Linked DNA regions of Homo sapiens: regions 2 and 3 are each linked to region 1. Evidence: fine-mapped expression QTL. A gene starts in region 1. Each other region holds a variant in brackets. All regions are shown on one strand. Distances are from middle to middle.

Region 1 (7,424 bases):
GTTTTGTTTACTTGTTTTCCATAACTGGGTGTTGTTGACTTTTACAAAACTGAAAGCTTTTCTGCTTTATAATTTAATCGTTTTTAAAAATAAATTTTAAGCTTATATTATGAAGTGCACATAAATCTATAGATTCCATCTTCCTGGTGCATTGATCTTTGTATCACCTTTTTCTACTCTTTGGTGCTAATGATGACTTTGATCTTAAGGTCCACTGTGTGTGATAGTGGTATAAAACGCTTTTCCTTGGCCATCACTTGCCTCTCCTTTCTTTTCCTTACGGTCTTTGTGTGTTTATATTTTAGGACTGTCTCTTGAACATTGCTGGATTGTGTGCCTTTTTAAAGAAATCCAATTTGATAATCTCTACCTTTTTATTATTGATTATTGATCTGTTTGAATTTTTTGTACTGTTGCATTTACATTTTATACTATTTGTCTTGCTTTTTCCATTTTTCTCCTAGATCAATCTAGTTTTTAAAAATTTCTTGTTTTTTTTCGATAGGTTTGGAAAACATACATTCAATTCTATTCTTTCAGTAGCCTCCCTTAAAATCTTACTATGCAGTATAGCCTTAACTAAGTCTAAAGTGATCATGACCTGTTTCTTCCTTCTGAGCCATGCAAGGACCTTAATACACTTTCACTCCTGTCTTACATGTCATTGCTATCTGGTATTTTGGTTCTAATTTTTAATAACTCTCCAACTTATCATTACCATTGTTATTGTTTTATATAATGACTGCCTGCTCATATTTACCCCCAGATTTACTATTTTATTTATTTACCTTTTCTTGGCATCCTGTTTCTAGGCTGAATTTTCTTCTTCCTGGCAGGGCGAGGTGGCTCACACCTGTAATCCCAGCACTTTGAGAGGCCGAAGCAGGAAGACTGCTTGAGCCCAGGAGCTCTAGGAGTTTGAGACCAGCCTAGGTAACATGGCAAAACCCTGTCTCTACAAAAAAATACAAAAATTAGCCAGGTATGGTGGTACATGCCCATAGTCCCAGCTACTAGGGAGGCTGAGGTGGGAGGATCGCTTGAGCCCAGAAGGTTTAGGCTGCAGTGAGTTGTGACTGTGTCACTGCGCTCCACCCTGGGTGACAGAGACCCTGTCTCAGAAACAATAACAAAAAATGTTTTTTCTCCCTGAAATTCCTTCTTTAGTAGTTTCTTCAGAAAGGACTGTTAATGTTAAGCCCACTCTGTTTTTCCAAAAAAAAAAAAAAAAAAAAAGTCTATGTTTCCTCAACTCTGAACAATAATTTACAGGTAGACCAGATGTTACAGTCCCTCTGCCACGGCCCTCTAACCCCATCTCTCCGTTTCTTCTAGACTACCAGTGTCTGCTCCTCCGTGCCTGAGGGCCAGAAGTGTTGAGGGCTGAATGCCTCCTGAAGCAGCCTTGACAATAACTGACAGGAAGGAGTAAGTGTAGAAACTCTCCTGCTCCCTGACCCAAGAGTGGGAAGATTCAGAGGCATGGATCTTACATTTTCCCAGACTTCCCTCCAGAAGGAAGCTTTCTTGTCCACTTGGTGGCTGGCATAATAAACATCTTTTATTGACTGCTTTCCCTGCCCCGTATCACATTCCCACTTCCCTGCCGATGCTTCCTGTCCTCCCAAATCAATTATCTACACTAAAATACTCAGGGTCTGCTTCTGGGACTTCAAACTAAGACACTGCATATAGAATTCTCCACAAATGGACTTCTTCTCTCAGCACTTCTCTTTGGATCTTCTAATTCTATCATGTTTCTTAATTCTGCCTCCATTTTTTTTTTTTTTTTTTTTTTTTTTTGAGATGGAGTCTCACTCTGTCACCCAGGCCAAAGTGCAGTGGTGTGATCTTGGCTCACTGCAACCTCTGCCTCCTGGGTTCAAGCAATCCTCCTGCCCCAGCCTCTTGAATAGCTGGAATTACAGGCATGCACCACCATGCAAGGCTAATAGTTGTATTTTTAGTAGAGATGGGATTTCAACACGTTGGCCAGGCTGGTCTCGAACTCCTGACCACAAGTGATCTGCCTTACTTGGGCTCCCAAAGTGCTGGGATTACAGGCATAAGCCACTGTGCCTGGCTGCTCTTCCATTTTTTCATCTCTATATTTGAGTGATTTCTTTAGAACCATTTTTCAGCTTTTTTTTTCCCAAAAATATCTGGTGTTTTTGAATTTTTCAATTAATTTACTATATACATTTCTTAAAGTTCTTTTTTTTTTTTTTTGGGACAGTATCTCACTCTATTGGCTAGGCTGGAGTGCGCGATTATGGCTCACTGCAACCTCAACCTCCTGGGCTCAAGGGGTCCTCCCTCCTACCTCAGCCTCCTGAGTAGCTGTGACCACAGGCATGCACCGCCAGGCCCAGCTAATTTTTTATTTTTATTTTTTGTAGAGATGGGGTCTTGCTGTGTTGTGTAGGCTAGTCTCAAATTACTGAGCACAGACAATCCTCTTGCCTCTGCCTCCCAAAGTGTTAGGATTACAGGTGTGAGCCTCCACGTCTGGCCTTAAAGTTCTTTTTCAAGTTTTCCTCCTGTTCTTTCTTTTTTTTTTTTTTTTAACGGACTCTCACTCGGTCACCAGGCTGGAGTGCTGTGGCATGATCTTGGCTCACTGCAGCCTCCGCTTCCCGGGTTCAAGCGATTCTCCTGCCTCAGCCTCCAGAGTAGCTGGGACTACAGGTGCGTGCCACCATGCCCAGCTGATTTTTGTATTTTTAGTAGAGATGGGGTTTCACCATATTGGCCAGGATGGTCTTGATCTGTTGACCTTGTGATCCACCCACCGTGAGCCACCGTGCCCTGCCTTGAAAAAAGTTTATTCTTTGTAAAGACAGGGTCTTGCTGTGTTGCCCAGGCTGGTCTTGAACTCCTGGTCTCAAGCGATTATCCCATCTCAGCCTCCCAAAGTGCCAGGATTATAGACATGAACCACCGTGCCTAGCCTCTATTATAATTTTAAACACTCATTTTTTTCTTTTTATCTTTCTCTGATGATTTTATTATCTGAAATTCTTAGGGATTTAATTCTTGCTCATGGTAGATTGTTTTCTCAAGTGTTGAAAAATTTGTGATTTTGAATTCATCGTCAAGAGAGCTTTATTTGCATGAGTGCAAAGGATGAAAATTCTAGACTGGGCGTGGTGGCTCACGCCTGTAATCCCAGCACTTTGGGAGACCGAGGTGGGCAGATCACGAGGTCAGGAGTTTGAGACCAGCCTGGCTAACATAGTGGAACCCCATCTCTACTAAAAATACAAAAAATTAGCTGGGTGTAGTGGTGTGTGCATGTAATCCCAGCTACTTGGGAGGCTGAGGCAGGAGAATTGCTTGAAGCCGGGAGGCAGAGGTTGCAGTGAGCCATGATTGCATCACTGCACTCCAGCCCAGCGGACAGTGCGAGACTCCATCTCAAAAAAAAAAAAAGAAAGAAAAGAATATTCTAAAAAAAGACTTAATTCCCCCCGCCACCCCACCCCAAAACAAGTGGAGACAGGCAAACTTCCTTATCTTCTAGGTTGGGGGATGGATTTTTTTCCTGGTCCACTGTTTGGAAGATGTTTCCCTTCAAACTTTCAGCTTTTGCAGGGATCTCCGTTCTAGTTCTCCCTCTGGGTCAGGCCCGTAGCTGCACTGCCCATTCTTGTAATGTGCGGCCTCCAGTCTGGAGGGTTCCCAGACTGGCCTACGCTAGGCCACCCATGGGCCTACCCTGCCTCATGCTCATTTAGGCTCCTCTTCCTCATTGACCCTTTAAGATATTCCTTACTTTCCTCCCAGATCAACTGTGGATTTAAAGAACATTTGTTGTATTTAGCACAGCATTTAAAGATATTTTGTAATGAAAGGGTTTTCAGATTAGTTATTTAGTTTTTTTAAATAAGAGCTGGAAGTGGAAATCCCGATGGCCTTTTCTTTTCTTTTCTTTTTTTTCTTGAGACGGAGTCTTGCTCTGTCACCCAGGCTGGAGTGCAGTGGCTCGATCTCAGCTCACTGCAAGCTCCGCCTCCCGGGTTCACGCCATTCTCCTGCCTCAGCCTCCCGAGTAGCTGGGACTACAGGCGCCCGCCACCACGCCTGGCTAATTTTTTGTGTTTTTAGTAGAGACGGGGTTTCACTATGTTAGCCAGGATGGTCTTGATCCCTTGACCTCGTGATCCGCCCACCTCGGCCTCCCAAAGTGCTGGGATTACAGGCGTGAACCACCGTGCCCGGCCCCCCAATGGCCTTTTCTACTGTCTCATGCTGATTCTGCCTCTGGTGCCATTTTTCTTCCTTGGGAGTGTGCATCTTCCTCTCCTGGGGCGGTAAAGGGAGTAGCAGAGTGCGAGGTATGTGGGAAGGGAGGAGGTTGGAACCTAGTGGTTTCTCAAAGTCTTAGGGCAGGAGGTATCATGGAGAAGCAGTGAGGAGGTCTTCCATACCCAGACATGCCTCAGGGTGCTTGTCTCAGTGCCTGGAATCCCAGCACGAGAGTCATCTTCCCCCCACCGCTGCCCATTGCATCAGTTACTTATTTTAGTAGGAATTAGTTTAGCAGATGGTGTTGAGAATTAGGCTTTTGGGAATGGGAGGCTGGGAAGAAGAATTGTGTGTGTGTGTGTGTGTGTGTGTGTGTGTGTGTGTGTGTAAGATCAGGGTACCAGAAGTGGGTGGAAATGTCCTTGAGAATTAGAATTATTAGAATGTAGCAACAGTAGAAGTATTAGACTCAAACCATCACTCCCCACCTTCACCATTTTACAAAGGCTTAGGCTTGTGGCCAAGACCTTCATCTTTAGCCGATCCATTCAACCCTGGCCAGGATCCAAATGGACTGTTTTTGTCAGGGCCAGGACCGGATCCTTCATACCTGGGGTGCATAGGAAGTGTTAGTACTCCCCTTCCTCCAAACACAGCAGCAAAATTGGCTCAGGTTGAGGTGTTTTTCTCAACTTCCCTGGAGTCCAGCCCTGGAAGCTGGATCAGGAAGCTGTGTTGTTCTACTGTGATTCCCCCTGGCCTGTATCAGCTTGCCCTGAAACAACCAGCATTCCTGGTTATCCCACACAGGTGGGGCACTCTAGGAAGACCAGGGATCAAGTGTGGGGGTGTAGGGATAGGGGGTGTTTGGGGAGGGCAAGGCAGTTAATTAAGGCAGCTGCCAGGAGGTCTCCCTCCAAACTCTACAAAGCTTTATCAGCTTGGAGGTACTTCTAATACCATTTCCTTTCATTGTTTCCTTTTGGTAATTAAAAGGAGGCCAATCCCCTGTTGTGGCAGCTCACAGCTATTGTGGTGGGAAAGGGAGGGTGGTTGGTGGATGTCACAGCTTGGGCTTTATCTCCCCCAGCAGTGGGGACTCCACAGCCCCTGGGCTACATAACAGCAAGACAGTCCGGAGCTGTAGCAGACCTGATTGAGCCTTTGCAGCAGCTGAGAGCATGGCCTAGGGTGGGCGGCACCATTGTCCAGCAGCTGAGTTTCCCAGGGACCTTGGAGATAGCCGCAGCCCTCATTTGCAGGGGAAGGTATGGCCTTTGGAAGGAGAGCTGGCTCAGTTGTGGGAGGAAGATGCAGGACTGACTGATCCCTGCTCCTGGGGAGCTGGAGTTCTCTGTCGCTGGACTAGAAGGGCTTTGTTTGGAGGGGCAATTCAATTCAGCCAGGGATGATCCTAATACTCCCTCCTCCACTTGCCTCTGAGGGTCCTGGGGCTGCTTTTCTTCATGCAGTGGGTTTTACTGTTTGATAGTACTTCACTCAAATGAGTTGGAATGAAGTTTGCCCTCACCTCTGAGAACCTGGGAGCAGCTGAATGTACCTGCGTGTTAGGACTGGGAGGGGACACCTGCTTGGAGACCGAGACCTGGCAGTATCTGACATCTCAGTGTTCCTTCCACAGATGTATCACAGATTGGCTTGATTTCACCTTTGGCTGGATGGGACCTTAGGTAGGAAGGGAGTCACCCCCAGTGAATCTCAGGCAGCAGATTCTGCACTTCATTTAACAACTTTTCCCGAGGAGAGGGGCTACAGCAGGGGCTCTAAGTGACTTGGGGTACGCTCTGCCAGCCAGGATGAATTGTCCCTCTCTTGGGGGTCACACAGTGGGGAAGTCTGCCTGCATCCAGGGCCGCTGGACTCCTGTCCATTTTTTCAGATGAACTCAGCAAACATTTGCTGGGCATCTCCTGGGTGCTAAGCATCTTGCCAGGTGCTGGGGTTGGAGGCAAGGGAGACAGCCTTTGCTCTTGTGAAGGCACTTGTGGTACAGAGTCAGGGGCCAACAAGCAAACCGTCAAGTTGGTGGTTCCTGAGCATTCTCTATGTCTGGGCTGCTGTGGTGGGCACACAAGTGTAAGACGGTTCCTACTCGCCAGTTTGGATGCAGAGGCAGGAAGGAATGAGGTGTGTGTTAGCTCCCAGCTGCTTCAGGAGGCAGGGATGTGAGGCCCAGCGGGCCTGGAGGGAAGGCAGCGTTTTCCTCCTGTCTTGGGCCTGGGACTGCTGTCTGTGGAAAGGTGCCCACAGGTCCCAGCTCACAGCGATTGTTACCCTTGGGCCTGGCACTGGCCAGGGGTTTTTTCGGGGGCCAGAAGTCCATGTTCAAAGGGGAAAAGGGGGTCACGAGGATCAATCTTTTCTCCTGCTTTAAAGAAATGTTTTTGCTACTGCATGCCCTGATAGTCGCCACACCAGCAGCCGCCTACCTGGGCAGCAATGACCAGCTCACGTCTCTTGCTTCTTTGCAGATGATTCCTGCCAGATTTGCCGGGGTGCTGCTTGCTCTGGCCCTCATTTTGCCAGGTAGGTACAAAAGGGCCTCCATTTCTCATTCCTGCCCCAGGGCCATCTGGAGTGACACCTTTCCGGGAATCAGCAGGTGTGTCTGGAGCTCACCTGTGTGCCCAGCCCTAACTTAGGCTGTTGGTTGCCTCCTGTGAAGGTTCTGCGGAGTTCCCACCCTTGACTTGTATTCCAGAGACCAGGTGCCTGCAAATGCCATCTCCTGTTGGGGAATTAAGAAGCATAAAGGTGGCACAGAACTGTCCTATATTATGGGGGCACAGGATGAGGAGGAAGGAATCCAAGACTTGGATGGATTATTAGTTTTCGATAAGATTGTGGAGGTCACCTTGTTGAACCTCCCATGGTACAATGAAGAGACTGAGGGTCAGAGAGGAGAAATGACTGCTCCAAAGTCTCCTAGAGCCAAAATCAGAGGTCAGTCTTCCTGGGTTCCAGGCCAACACCCTTTCCACTGCACTGCATCATACTGCTGCCCTTCCCTTGCTAAGATTCTGGGTCTGCAAATGGCGGGAGGGGACTTTTGACCTTGGGCGCTTTCCACTTAGATCTCTCAGGTCAGCAGCATCCAGCTACTGCCCACAGGTGAGTCTGGGAAAAAAAATACACATTTGTCACACTCTCTGCAT
Region 2 (6,104 bases), 31 kb before region 1:
ATAAAAGCAGCGTGCACCCAAAGAGAGAAAGAACAAAACTTCCACATTGGGGAAGCCAACTCCAGCGGGTTGCCACTGCTGGCTCGGGCAGCCTGCTTTTATTCTCTTATCTGCCCCCACCCACATCCTGCTGATTGGTAGAGCCGAGTGGCCTGTTTTGACGGGGTGCTGATTGGTGCGTTTACAATCCCTGAGCTAGACCCAAAGGTTCTCCTCCTCCCCACCAGATTAGCTAGATACAGAGTGTCCACACAAGGTTCTCCAAGGCCCCACCAGAGCAGCTAGATACAGAGTGTCCATTGGTGCATTCACAAACCCTGAGCTAGACACAGGGTGCTGATTGGTGTGTTTACAAACCTTGAGCTAGATACAGAGTGCCGATTGGTGTATTTACAATCCTGAGCTAGACATAAAGGTTCTCCAAGGTCCCACCAGAGTCAGGAGCCCAGCTGGTTTCACCCAGTGGATCCCGCACCTGGGCTGCAGGTGGAGCTGCCTGCCAGTCCCGCGCTGTGTGCCCGCACTCCTCAGCCCTTGGGTGGTCGATGGGACTAGGTGCCAGTGGAGCAGCGGGCGGTGCTCGTCGGGGAGGGTCCGGCCGCACAGGAGCCCACGGAAGAGGGGGGTCTCAGGCATGGCGGGCTGCAGGTCCTGAGCCCTGCCCCGCGGGGAGGCAGCTAAGACCCGGCGAGAAATCGAGCGCAGCGCCGGTGGGCCGGCACTGCTTAGGGACCCAGTACACCCTCCGCAGCTGCAGGCCCAGGTGTAAGCCCCTCGTTGCCCGGGGCCGGCAGGGCTGGCCGGCTGCTCCGAGTGCAGGGCCCGCCAAGCCCACGCCCACCCTGAACTCCAGCTGGCCCGCAAGCTCTGCGCGCAGCCCCGGTTCCCGCTCGCGCCACTCCCTCCACACCTCCCTGCAAGCTGAAGGAGCCGGCTCCGGCCTTCGCCGGCCCAGAAAGGGGCTCCCACAGTGCAGCGGTGGGCTGAAGGCCTCAAGTGCCGCCAAAGTGGGAGCCCAGGCAGAGGAGGCGCCGAGAGCGAGCAAGGGCTGTGAGGACTGCCAGCACGCTGTCACCTCTCAATATCAGGTCTCTTCTCAAGTGGCACCTGTCGCAGAGGCCCTCCGGGGCTATTCTGCATAAATACCACCCACTCTTGTCACTTGCTGTCCCCCTTACATTACTTTATTCTCTTGCTAGCCCTTATCACCATCTGATTTATATTTGCTTTCTTGTTTTTTGGCTTTTTCCCTCCATTAAGTGTAAGCTCTTTGTGTGTCTTGTCTGGCAATCTGTACCTCCACTTTCGACAGCAATGCCAGCAAGCACACAGCCGGGGCTCAGTAGACGCTTATAGGACGCTGAGTGGCGTGTGCTGGATGTGCTGCTGTGCAGAGCCCAGAAGCCAAGCTGCCCCTGCATGGCGTTCAGAGGAGGGATGGCTGGACCTGATACTCGGAGAGTGACGGGGAGGGAGTGCTTGGCCTGGGTCTGCTCAGATGGCCGCCGGGCCAGCCAGGCCATTGCTCTGACCTCAGTTCTGGAGAGTTCGGATTGGTGGCAAGGGAAAGGGCAGGAGCTGAGGAATGGATGGTTCCATTAATCATGGAACTTTGCCCAGAGGGGTCAGAGGAGTAAGGCAGGGGATAGAGGGAGAGATAGCATTAGACAGAAGGTTCTGGTGGCAGGGGAGGGGCTGGGGGGGAGAAAAGGGATCGGGGTGTGGGTTCTGGCTCAGCCTTTTCCAGACTTTGTGGCTGCTGCTGCAGTCCCAGAGTCTACTGGGGCCCCGCTGTCTGCTTCCTGGCCTGGCTGTTTGTTTATTTGGCCAGTAGTTTGGGCAGCCGTGGGCCTCTCTTGCTGACCTCCAGGGGAGGAGTTAAGTACATACTGCCTCTCAGGTGCAGCAACTAAAACCGTACAGGAAATGTTGAGGTGCCAGTCAGCAAGAGGGCCAGTCCTGGGCTTCCCCTGCCAGGGCCCCCTAGGAGCAGATACCCACCCCCACTCTTTCTCATCCCCAGCTCCTGTGGGAGTGAAGTGGGCTTCCTGTGCTTTCCAACGGAAACTTTACTTGGTTCTCTTCACAGCCAGCATTGATTCATTCTCTTAGTTGGCAAATACTTGTTAAGTACTCCATGCTACCAACGAGCTAGGAATACAGACAATCTTGGTGTAGAAAAATTCATCTTTAATGTTCATAGCCTTCCTGGTCAGCACCCATTCCTCCTCTCACTCATAGAACCTTTCCCCACATTGGGGAGAGGCTGGTTAATGGATACAAAGTTACAGCTGGCTAAGCTGAGGGGAATAAGCATTAGTGTCCTGTACCACTGTAGGGTGAAAGTAGTTAACAATAGTTTCAAGTATAGTTTCAAAAAGCTGCAAGGTAGGATTTTAAGTGTTCCCAGCACAAAGAAGTGATCGGTGTTCAAGATGTTAGATATGCTAATTACCCTGATTTGATCAATATACATCATATGCATGTATCAGAATACCACTTTGAATCCCATAAAAAATGGACAATTATCGTCAACAAAAAATAAAAGGGAAAAAACACCAAATATCTTTCCCCACATCAATTTCGTGTCCTAGGCTGGTGCTGTGTGCCTGGGAGCAGTGGTGTGTTGATCAATGTTTAACAAGTGACTCTTTGGAAGAAAAGCCATGATCTGTAGTGTCTGCCAATTTCTGTGGTGTAACTATTTCCAGCGTGTCAGATTCCATGCCACCCATGTGATGTTACTCAATGGAAAACTGGGAAGACTTCACAGTAACACACCATTATGTGTCATTTCCATCACACAGATACAGACATTGGTATGTATAACCTCAAGGGTATAGATAATAGTAAAATATAAAATAATTAGGAAGTATGAGTTTTGAGTCGTTATCTCTGTCTTAAATGTAACTTGTTTTACGATGATTATATATACTTTAGTATTTAATAATGAATGTATTTAACAACAGAGCCACAAAATTCCTGAAAATGTAAAAACTGGCTCTGCAAG[C/A]CAGGATCACTGCCTGTGAGCTTGTTGGAAATGCAGATTCTTAGGCCCCACCAGCTCTACTGAATCAGGATCTGAATTTTAACATTTTTAACAATACCCTCAGGTAATCCATATACATTATACATTTAAAAAGCATGCCCTAGGGGAAATAACTGTTTATTATTTCATTGATATCTTTTCAGAACTTTTCCACAACACAGATGTGTGTATTTTTAAAAATTTTGTTTTTAACAAAAATAAGATCACGCTGTAAATGTTTTGCAAGGTTTTGTTTTGTTTTCAACTTAGTAACATGTCTGATATCCTTCCATGTCAGTCTGTAGAGATCGCGTTATTTTTAATGTCTCTGTAGTATTTTAGGACATGAGTAAATCATGATAAAAAAAAATCATCTCTTGCTGGGCACAGTAGCTCATGCTTGTAATCCCAGCACTTTGGGAGGTTGAGATGGGTGGATCAATTGAGACAAGGAGTTTGAGACCAGCCTGTGTGACATATCAAAACCCTGTCTCTACAAAAAATACAAAAAAATAGTTGGGTGAGGTGGCTTGTGCCTGTAGTCGCAGCTGCTTGGGAGGCTTAGGGGGGAGGATCGCTTGAGTCTGAGGAGGTCTAGGCTGCCGTGAACCGTGATACTGCCACTACACTCCAGCCTGGGTGACAGTGAGACCCTGTCTCCTCCCCGCTCAAAAAACCTTCTCTGAACAAACACATATTGTTTTCCCCTTTTGCTTCAAGAAACTTTATAATTAAAAAGAAAGTTTCCTTGAACTGTCTTTGAATTTCCTTAACAAAATATACCTCAAAAAAACTTCTGAAAGCTAATTTATACCAAAGGGTTAGTGGCTGGCAATAATAGTTTTACAGCGTTTTCCTTCTTCCCCAGATTTAAACAGTTTACATTTTATCAATATTGAGATATTTTATGCATAATATTCTGAATAAGCTGCTAGGGAATAAAAAGAAGTTAGACGGGCTGGGCGTGGTGGCTCAGGCTTGTAATCTCAGCACTTCCGGAGGCTGAGGCGGGTGGATCACCTGAGGTCAGGAGTTCAAGACCAGCCTTGCCAACATGGCGAAACTCTAGTCTCTACTAAAAATGCAAAAAAATTAGCCAGGCGTGGTGGTGGGCGCCTGTAATCCCAGCTACTCGGGATGCTGAGGCAGGAGAATCGCTTGAACCCGGGAGGCGGAGGTTGCAGTGAGCCGAGATCGAGCCACTGCACTGCAGCTGGGTGATGAGCGAAACTCCGTCTCAAAAAAAAAAAAAAAAAAAGAAGTTAGACATGGGCCTGACTTTCACACGCTGACAGCCCTCCAAAGGGAATGCAATAATCATGAAATGAGGCAAATAATCATAAAATGAGGCACGACATATAGATACAGAACTGTTCCCAGCATCTGTAGTGCCATAAGAACATCGGAGAAGGGAGGGTAGAAAAACCTAAACTAGACACTGGGTGCTACCGATGACATTAGAGAAATTGATGGATAAGTGGGAAGGTGTCTGTCCTGTCCTCAAACCGCAGCAGGCAGCCTTAGGCTAAGGGCTGGTGGATGTAGGATAGGATAAAAAGAGAGCCCCAAGGGCAGTATTTCTACAGGGTGAACCTGGTACCCTTTTCTTCACAACCACCCTAAAGGGAAATTTTTCCCCCCACCCTTTTTTTTTTTTTTTTTTTGAGACGGAATCTCGCTCTTGTCACCAGGCTGGAGTGCAGTGGTGCGATCTAGGTTCACTGCAACCTCCGCCTCCCAGGTTCAAGCGATTCTCCTGCCTCAGCCTCCCGAGTAGCTGGCATTACAGGCGTGCGCCCACCACGCCCAGCTAATTTTTGTATTTTTAGTAGAGACGGAGTTTCACCAGGTTGGCCAGGATGGTCTCGATCTCTTGACCTAGTGATCCGCCCGCCTCAGCCTCCCAAAGTGTGGGAATTACAGGCATGAGCCACAGCACCCGGCCCCCACCCTTTTTTTCTCTAGCCCTAACATCTGGTTCCTTAATCTTCAGGAACCCTGATCCGCAAAGATGATAGCAGTTCTGCTTGGTTCCTGTCTGAGCCTGGATCTGGATCTGGGAGGTGCTGGCGGGGTCCTGTTCTTCCGCTCTGGTGGGAATCTGATTGTGATCAGCATTGGGCCGCATGCCAGAGACGGCTGCAGTCCTGTGCCTGGCCTGGCCGGCCTCGGTGCTACCCGCCACCCCTCACGTCTTCCCTTCTGGCTCCTTGTACGTCACTGGTCAGTCCGCGAACCCTGACTCTCCATCAGTGAGCTGTGTGGCACTGGGCAAGCCTCTGCCCTTCTCTACTTCCCAGGGTACAGAGTGAGCTTCCACCTTTTGGCTTGATTCTCCTTCACATCTTGCCCACCCAGGCTTCTGACCGAATCTAGCAGCTCAAGTCAAATTCAGCTGGAAATTGGCTGCTGAAGAAGCTGTCTTTCACCCTCTATAACTGAGGACTTACTGTTCCTAACTGTTGCTAAGTGGGGGCTGTTTTCTTTGAGGGAGTTTTTTCTTCTTTAGCAATTTTATATATAAAATAACAAATGCAAAGTATGTATTATGAGACATGCTAACAAAATGAACATCTGTGAACCCACTACCCCATCTAAGAATTAGAACATTATCAACAGGGTTGTATGTGCCTATGTGTTCTTTCCTGTTCTGTATGCCTGTCTCCCTTGAAGAGATAGCTATTACCCTGAGTTTTGGTGTTTGTTATTTCCTTGCTTTAAAAAAGTAGCTTCATCGGCCGGGCGTGATCCCAGCGCTTTGGGAGGCTGAGGCGGGTGGATCACCTGAGGTCAGGAGTTTGAGACCAGCCTGACCAACATGGTGAAACCCCATCTCTACTAAAAATACAAAATTAGCTGGGTGTGGTGGCATGCGCCTGTAATCCCAGCTACTGAGGAGGCTGAGGCAGGAGAATCACCTGAACCCGGGAGGCGGAGTTTGCAGTGAGCCAAGATCACGCCATTGTATTCTAGCCTGGGCGACAAGAGTGAAACTCTGTCTCAAAAAAAAAAAAAAAAAAAAGCTTCATCACATATGTTTGTATCTACAAACTTTACTTGTTTACTTTTGCTTGTT
Region 3 (7,460 bases), 65 kb before region 1:
CTCGCTCTGTTGCCCAGGCTGGAGTGCAGTGGCTCAATCTCGGCTCACTACAACCTCCATCCCTGGGCTCAAGAGACTCTCTTGCCTCAGCCTCCCAAGCAGATTGAATTACAGGTGTGCGCTGCCATGCCCGGCTAATAATTTTTTTTTTTTTAGACGGAGTCTCGCTTTGTCACCCAGGCTGGAGTGCAGTGGCACGATCTTGGCTCACTGCAACCTCTGCCTCCCGGGTTCAAGTGATTCTTCTGCCTCAGCCTCCCAAGTAGCTGGGACTACAGGCGCACACCACCATGCCCAGCTAATTTTTGTATTTTTAGTAGAGACGGGGTTTCACCATATTGGCCAGGCTGGTCTTGAACTCCTGAATTCGTTATCTACCCACCTCAGCCTCCCAAAGTGCTGGGATTACAGGCGTAAGCCACCGTGTTTTTTATATTTTTTATATTTTTTATATTTTTAGTAGAGATGGGGTTTCCTCCTGTTGGTCAGGCTGGTCTTGAACTCCTGGCCCCAGGTGATCCGCCCACCTCAGCCTCCCAAAGTGCTGGGATTACAGGCGTGCGCCACCGTGCCTGGCCCGTTTCCACTTCTAACGGCCCTCCAAATAGGCCCACGTTCCAATCCCCAAAACTGTGAATGTGTTACTTTCCATGGCATAGCCTGGACCATCCCAGTGGGCCCAGTGGAATCCAAAGGGTTCTTATAAGAGACAGGTGGAAGTGTCAAAGCCAGGGAAGGAGATGTGACGACAGAAGCAGAGGTCGCAGTGATGCACAGCTGTGTGTTGGGGAACAAGGACAGCCTCTAGAAGCTGGAGAAGGCGAAGAAACGAATTCTCCCCTGCAGCTGCCAGAGGGATCCAACACAGCCCTGCCCACCCATTTTAGATTTCAGACCTCTAGAATTGTGAAATAGTAAATATGTGTTACTTTAAGCCACTAAATTTGTGGTTGTTACCGAAGCAATAGGAAATATAGTAATCTCAATGTAAACATCAAGATCAGAATTCATAATCTCCAAGGGCTTTCTAGGCTCGCAGCTGACTTTCTCCTCAGCCCTCCCTGTCTCTAATCAGTCAGCACCAACACCTCCCATCACCTGGGGCTCCTCCTTCCCCCAGCCTCACAGCTGCTTAGTGAATGTGATTCCTGTTTCTTAGCTGTTCTTACGTCATTGCTGGGAGGCACCAGGGCTAAGGCGGGTTGTAGTGATTGAGTGGCAGAGCACAGATCAGACCTCAGAGCTTCTGGTTTCAGTCCAGGGTTGGATCCTGATCTTTTGTTCCCCCTGATGCCCTGCCATCCGCAAGGGGGCTGCATCCTGGAAGCTCATCTGCAGCCCAAACGGCTGTTCTACCCTTGCCCTGCCTCGCTGCTGTTCACCTGCCCAGGATGGACACAACATTGGACCCAGAGAGTCTTGCTGCGTGCGTCCTTGGGGGTGGGCTGCCCTCCTCTCACCCATCACTTCTTTTCCTTGCATTAAGCACACACACACTCAACCTGGAAACTGCCTATGTCCAGTGTGGATTTTATGAAGGTTTCACGGATAGGTGGATGAGGGGTTCCCTCTCATATGCCAGAGAGAACCATTCTAAGAATCCCTCTGGATAGCTCTTCTCAAACGTCCAATCTGTGGCAGCCACCCCTATCATCTGCCCCCCAGCCCAGCCTCAGCCAGCCCCCTGCCCTGTGGATGTCCTCTGCATATGTCTGTGTGGAGCAATTTAGCTCTAAACTTGGCATTTTCCGTTTGTGTCCCCACCTCCCCTCACCCTGCTCAGCAAAACAAATCATGGCTCTCAGGGTCTGTCCTCCTTAGTATATGGGGGTTGGGGGCAGGCGGGGAGCAATTCTAAACAAGCAATATTTAATATCATCCTTTCATCAGACTCCTGAAGCTCAGCTTTACTCTTTCCTGCTCAAAGATCTCCCAACTCCCCTTACCCCTGTTCTACTTCCAAACAATGCTCCCATAGCATTTACCTTCTCACAGAGTGGAATGTTTCCTTGGTATGTGCATTGCTATTTACCTGTCTCCTCCAGCTAGAATGCAAAATCCGCATGGCTGTTCTGTTCTCTATGTATCCCAAGGGCTTTGAACAGTGCCTGACATACAGTAGGTGCACAATATTTATTGAATGTATGGAAAGCCGATGTCTCAATTGTAAGATCATCATACAGGCCCTCTGCTCTCTCGCCTTAACCTCTGTTTGCAAATCTGTTCACTCTTTTGGAATACCACATGCATCCCCAGCTCTATGCCTGGGTCCCCACCTCTTCTTTCCGAAGCCCAAGCTCTTGGCACTTCCTCCTTTCTGCCCTTCAAGCAGCCTGCACCATCTCTGAGGCCAGCCCAGCCCCTGCCTTCCCCAGCACCCTCAGTCATCTTAGTCTGCTCTGATCCTCTTTCTCAGGACACTCCTGTAGCAACTTCTTTCTGAATCATCCACTAGACTCTTACAAGATTTGTCCTGGGTGATAATTTCAGGTTTCATGCATCTGTTTAAAAGAGTTGGCTGGGCGGCCGGGCGCGGTGGCTCACGCCTATCATCTCAGCACTGTGGGAGGCTGAGGCGGGCGGATCACGAGGTCAGGAGATCGAGATCATCCTGGCTAACACAGTGAAACCCTGTCTCTACTAAAAATACAAAAAATTAGCCAGGCGTGGTGGCGGGCGCCTGTAGTCCCAGCTACTAGGGAGGCTGAGGCAGGAGAATGGCGTGAACCCGGGAGGCAGAGCTTGCAGTGAGCTGAGATCACACCGCTGCACTCCAGCCTGGGCGACAGAGCGAGACTCCGTCTCAGAAAAAAAAAAAAAAAAAAGATTAGCTGAGCGTGGTGGCAGGTGCCTGTAATCCCAGCTACTCAGGAGGCTGAGGCAGGAGAATCGCCTGAACCCAGGAAGCGGAGGTTGCAGTGAGCTGAGACTGCGCCACTGCACTCCAGCCTGGTGAGAGTGAGACTCCGTCTAAAAAAAAAAAGATTAGCTGGGCATGATGGCGGGTGTGGGGAAAAGAGAGATCAGATTGTTACTGTGTCTATGTAGAAAGAAGTAGACATAGGAGACTCCATTTTGTTCTGTACTAAGAAAAATTCTTCTGCCTTGAGATGCTGTTAATCTCAATGTCAAACTCAGGGTTAAATGGATTAAGGGCGGTGCAAGATGTGCTTTGTTAAACAGATGCTTGAAGGCAGCATGCTCCTTAAGAGTCATCACCACTCCCTAATCTCAAGTACCCAGGGACACAAACACTGCGGAAGGCCACAGGGACCTCTGCCTAGGAAAGCCAGGTGTTGTCCAAGGTTTCTCCCCATGTGACAGTCTGAAATATGGCCTCGTGGGAAGGGAAAGACCTGACTGTCCCCCAGCCCGACACCCGTAAAGGGTCTGTGCTGAGGAGGATTAGTAAAAGAGGAAGGAACACCTTTCTGCAGTTGAGACAAGAGGAAGGTGGGCAATGGAATGTCTCGGTGTAAAACCCGATTGTATATTCCATCTACTGAGATAGGGGAAAACCGCCTTAGGGCTGGAGGTGGGACATGCGGGCAGCAATACTGCTCTGTAAGGCATTGAGATGTTTATGTGTATGCATATCTAAAGCACAGCACTTAATTCTTTACCTTGTTCATGATGCAGAGACCTTTGTTCACGTGTTTATCTGCTGACCTTCTCTCCACTATTATCCTATGACCCTGACACATCCCCCTCTCCGAGAAACACCCAAGAATGATCAATAAATACTAAGGGAACTCAGAGGCTGGCGGGATCCTCCGTATGCTGAACGCTGGTCCCCTTGAGAGGTGACAGCGTGCTGGCAGTCCTCACAGCCCTCGCTCACTCTGGGGGCCTCCTCTGCCTGGGCTCCCACTTTGGCGGCATTTGAGGAGCCCTTCAGCCCGCCGCTGCACTATGGGAGCCCCTTTCTGGGCTGGCCAAGGCCGGAGCCGGCTCCTTCAGCTTGCAGGGAGGTGTGGAGGGAGAGGCGCGAGCGGGAACCGGGGCTGTGAGCGGCGCTTGCGGGCCAGCTGGAGTTCCAGGTGGGCGTGGGCTTGGCGGGCCCCGCACTCAGAGCAGCCGGCCCGCCCTGCGGGCCCCGGGCAATGAGGGGCTTAGCACCCGGGCCGGCGGCTGCGGAGGGTGTACTGGGTCTCCCAGCAGTGCTGGCCCACCCGCGCTGCGCTCGATTTCT[T/C]ACTGGGCCTTAGCTGCCTTCTCGCGGCGCAGGGCTCGGGACCTGCAGCCCACCATGCCTGAGCCTCCCACCCACTCCGTGGGCTCCTGTGCGGCCGAGCCTCCCCGATGAGCGCCGCCCCCTGCTCCACGGTGCCAAGTCCCATCAACCACCCAAGGGCTGAGGAGTGTGGGCGCAGGGCGCGGCACTGGCAGGTAGCTCCACCTGCAGCGCTGGTGCGGGATCCACTGGGTGAAGCCAGCTGGGGTCCTGAGTCTGGTGGGGATGTGGAGAACCTTTATGTCTAGCTCAGGGATTGTAAATACACCAATCGGTACTCTGTATCTGGCTCAAGGTTTGTAAACACACCAATCAGCACCCTGTGTCTAGCTCAGGATTTGTGAATGCACCAATTGACACTCTGTATCTAGCTGCTCTGGTGGGGCCTTGGAGAACCTTTGTGTCGATACTCTGTATCTAACTAATCTGGTGGGGAGGAGGAGAACCTTTGTGTCTAGCTCAGGGATTGTAAACGCACCAATCAGCGCCCTGTCAAAACAGACCACTGGGCTCTACCAATCAGCAGGACGTGGGTGGGGCCAGATAAGAGAATAAAAGCAGGCTGCGTGAGCCAGCAGTAGCAACCCGCTCGGGTCTCCTTTCACGTGGTGGAAGCTTTGTTCTTTCACGCTTTGGGTCTGCACTGCTTTTATGAGCAGTAACACTCACCACGAAGGTCTGCAGCTTCACTCCTGAAGCCAGTGAGACTATGAGCCCACTGGGAGAAACGAATAACTCCTAGACTTGCTGCCTTAAGAGCTGTAACACTCAACGCGAAGGTCTGCAGTTTCACTCCTTAAGCCAGCAAGACCACAAACCCACCAGAAGGAAGAAACTCCAAACACATCTGAACGTCAGAAAAAACAAACTTCAGACGCGCCACCTTAAGAGTTGTAACACTCACCTCACCGCGAGGGTCCGTGGCTTCATTCTTGAAGTCAGTGAGACCAAGGACCTACCAATTCCAGACACACCCTGGGCCCCCTTTTTTTCTTTCTCTACACTTTGTCTCTGTGTCTCTTTTCCAAGTCTCGTTCCACCTAATGAGAAGTGCCCACAGGTGTGGAGGAGCAACCCATCCCTTCAGGCAGGTGCCTGTAATCCCAGCTACTCAGGAGGCTGACGCAGGAGAATTGCCTAAACCCAGGAAGCGGAGGTTGCAGTGAGCTGAGATGGTGCTATTGCATTCCAGCCTGGGCGACACAGCAAGACTCCTTCCCCATAAATAAATACTCTCCAGCTAGATTACCAGCTCCTGTTGTACCCACAGTAGGTACCTTCCAGACACTTAATGTAGTAGGTCTGAAGAACTAACACTTGCATGGGTACATAAGATGTAACTAATGCTGTTCTAACTGCTGTATATAAACTCAATCCACAAACAACCCTTTGAGGTTGATAGTTTTACAAATGGGGAAGCCAAGTCACAGGCGGTTCATGCTCTTGTTAGGAAGCAGCAGAGCCGGGATGTAAACCCAGGTGGCCTGGTTCCAGAGCCCAGGTGCTAAGCTGCTGCTTCCTGTGGTAGGTAAATGTGGACTGGCACTACACTGCCGTTTTTGCCCTTTGACTGTAGAGGTGGGTGAAGGGGCTGCAGATGACTCCTCAGCAGTTGTGCCATCTTGAAGGTGCCTCCCTGCAAGGCGACTCTGAGTCTTAGGGCTGCTGACAGGTGGTGAGCCTGCAATTGGGTCCTGCCTTTGCTGGTGCTTGTCTGTTCCTCTGAGGCTCGCTTTCCACAGCTGCAGAGCGAGGATGATTACTGCTCTTTCTCCACCATGAGGGGTGGGGATGGGCGGGTATGTGCCCAGGCAGCCTGCCCCTGGCTCAGTGGTAGGCAATGCCAGCCCATGGGTAGCAGCTGCAGCTTCTCTTCACTCTGTGGCTGCTGGCTTCTGTTCTGGTTGGTGGTTCTGGCTTCAGGTGGAGGAGCAGGGACTCTGGGGGCTATGTATTTGTGGTATTTCCTGCGTAAGAGGGTAGAGAAGCTGTAGGCAATTAGCATGGGGCTTGAAATTAGAAGTCACAGGTGCAAGCCCTACTGCATACTTACCTGGGAGCAGAGATGACCTGAGCAAGTCTCTGCTTTTCTGAGACTCCATTTCGTTATCCACAAAATGGGCTTAGTAAAAACTCCTACTTTGCTGTTGTAAGAGAGTCAGATGAAATCCTGGATGTGTAAGTGCTTTGTAAACTATAAGGGTGCTTATAAACTTGATTTTCAATTTTAATCTCAGTACAGGAGTAGTGGACTTGGTTGTTATAAAATGCTAAATAGCCCCAAGGCTTGGAGTCTTGGAGAATGTTGGCAAGATGAGCATTTTCAGCTCTGTCTTCTGAGTGTCTTTGCCCAGCATGCTAGGTCCTGTTCACCCCACATTTACTGAGCACCTGAGTGCTAGGCTGTGGGAGGTGCCCAGGATAAGCCACGCCCTAGTTTTGCTCATGAGAAACTCACCTCCTAACTGGTGATATAGGATGTGGTGGACGCCAATCATTAGATGGTAACAAGGCGAGGAAGAGTTAGGGAAGTGAGGAGTTGCAGGGGTCCAGATATCTGAGAGCAGGACTGACCAGGCAGCCGTAGCAAGACACAGGTGGGGACAGGGCAGTGCTGGGGGCCACTGGGCTCAGCTCTATGCCTGCTTCCCATTTCCACACAGCTTAGCCTAAGCTGGTCCTGAGAAGGTTTTATTCATATCAAAGGGCAAACGAAGTTGCTGAATCTATCTTGCTGACAGTTTCTTTGTGTCTCATATAATGTTTGGCTGATGCTCCTGAAACTATAAGCACCCAGAGGCAGGGTCGCTGTCTCTCCCAGCTGTATCTGGGGTGGGTTGGACAAAGGTCCCCCTAGAGGGCCAGTGTGTGTGTGCACACGTGTCTGCATGTGTGTCTGTGTATAAGAGATGGGACTTTCGTCTGTAGGTTCAGGTAGATATGGGCAGGTAAAATACAGTGAAGGTAAGAAGCTGTCACTAATGTCTACCTGTGGCCTGTGGGAAGGGTTTAGAGAGAGGGAGAATATGGCCATGGAGTCACTGCCTAAAGACAAAGGAAGTCTGAACCTCATTGTGTGGCACGGGCCTTTGTAAACCAGCCTCTGCTGACGTCCAGCACCTGATTTCCCACTCTGGCACCTTATATGCTCTAGCTGGTTTTATTTGTTTATTTTTGAGACAGGGTCTCACTGTGTCACCTAGGCTGGAGTGCAGTGGTGAGATCATGG

Evidence for each region. PIP is the estimated chance that this variant, and not a neighbour inherited with it, causes the effect.
Region 2: its variant is the best candidate, but not a certain one, in a credible set for the expression of VWF in whole blood (INTERVAL, PIP 0.82).
Region 3: its variant is the best candidate, but not a certain one, in a credible set for the expression of VWF in whole blood (TOPMed, PIP 0.57).

Annotation. Positions count from the first base shown.
Region 1 is chr12:6,122,513-6,129,936 of GRCh38, reverse strand. It overlaps VWF (von Willebrand factor), which reads left to right and starts at 5,267. Exons shown (of 52, transcript NM_000552.5): 1 at 5,267-5,516; 2 at 6,741-6,795. The coding sequence starts at 6,741.
Region 2 is chr12:6,154,274-6,160,377 of GRCh38, reverse strand. All of the region lies in intron 1 of LOC124902866 (a long non-coding RNA gene), which reads left to right. Among named protein-coding and RNA genes, the nearest start is that of VWF, 33 kb to the right of the region's middle. RefSeq lists an enhancer at 788-1,361. The variant C/A (reference allele first, on the strand shown) is at 3,011.
Region 3 is chr12:6,187,773-6,195,232 of GRCh38, reverse strand. No RefSeq gene overlaps it. Among named protein-coding and RNA genes, the nearest start is that of CD9, 8.9 kb to the left of the region's middle. RefSeq lists a silencer at 1,088-1,137 and enhancers at 3,465-4,150, 4,151-4,836. The variant T/C (reference allele first, on the strand shown) is at 4,193.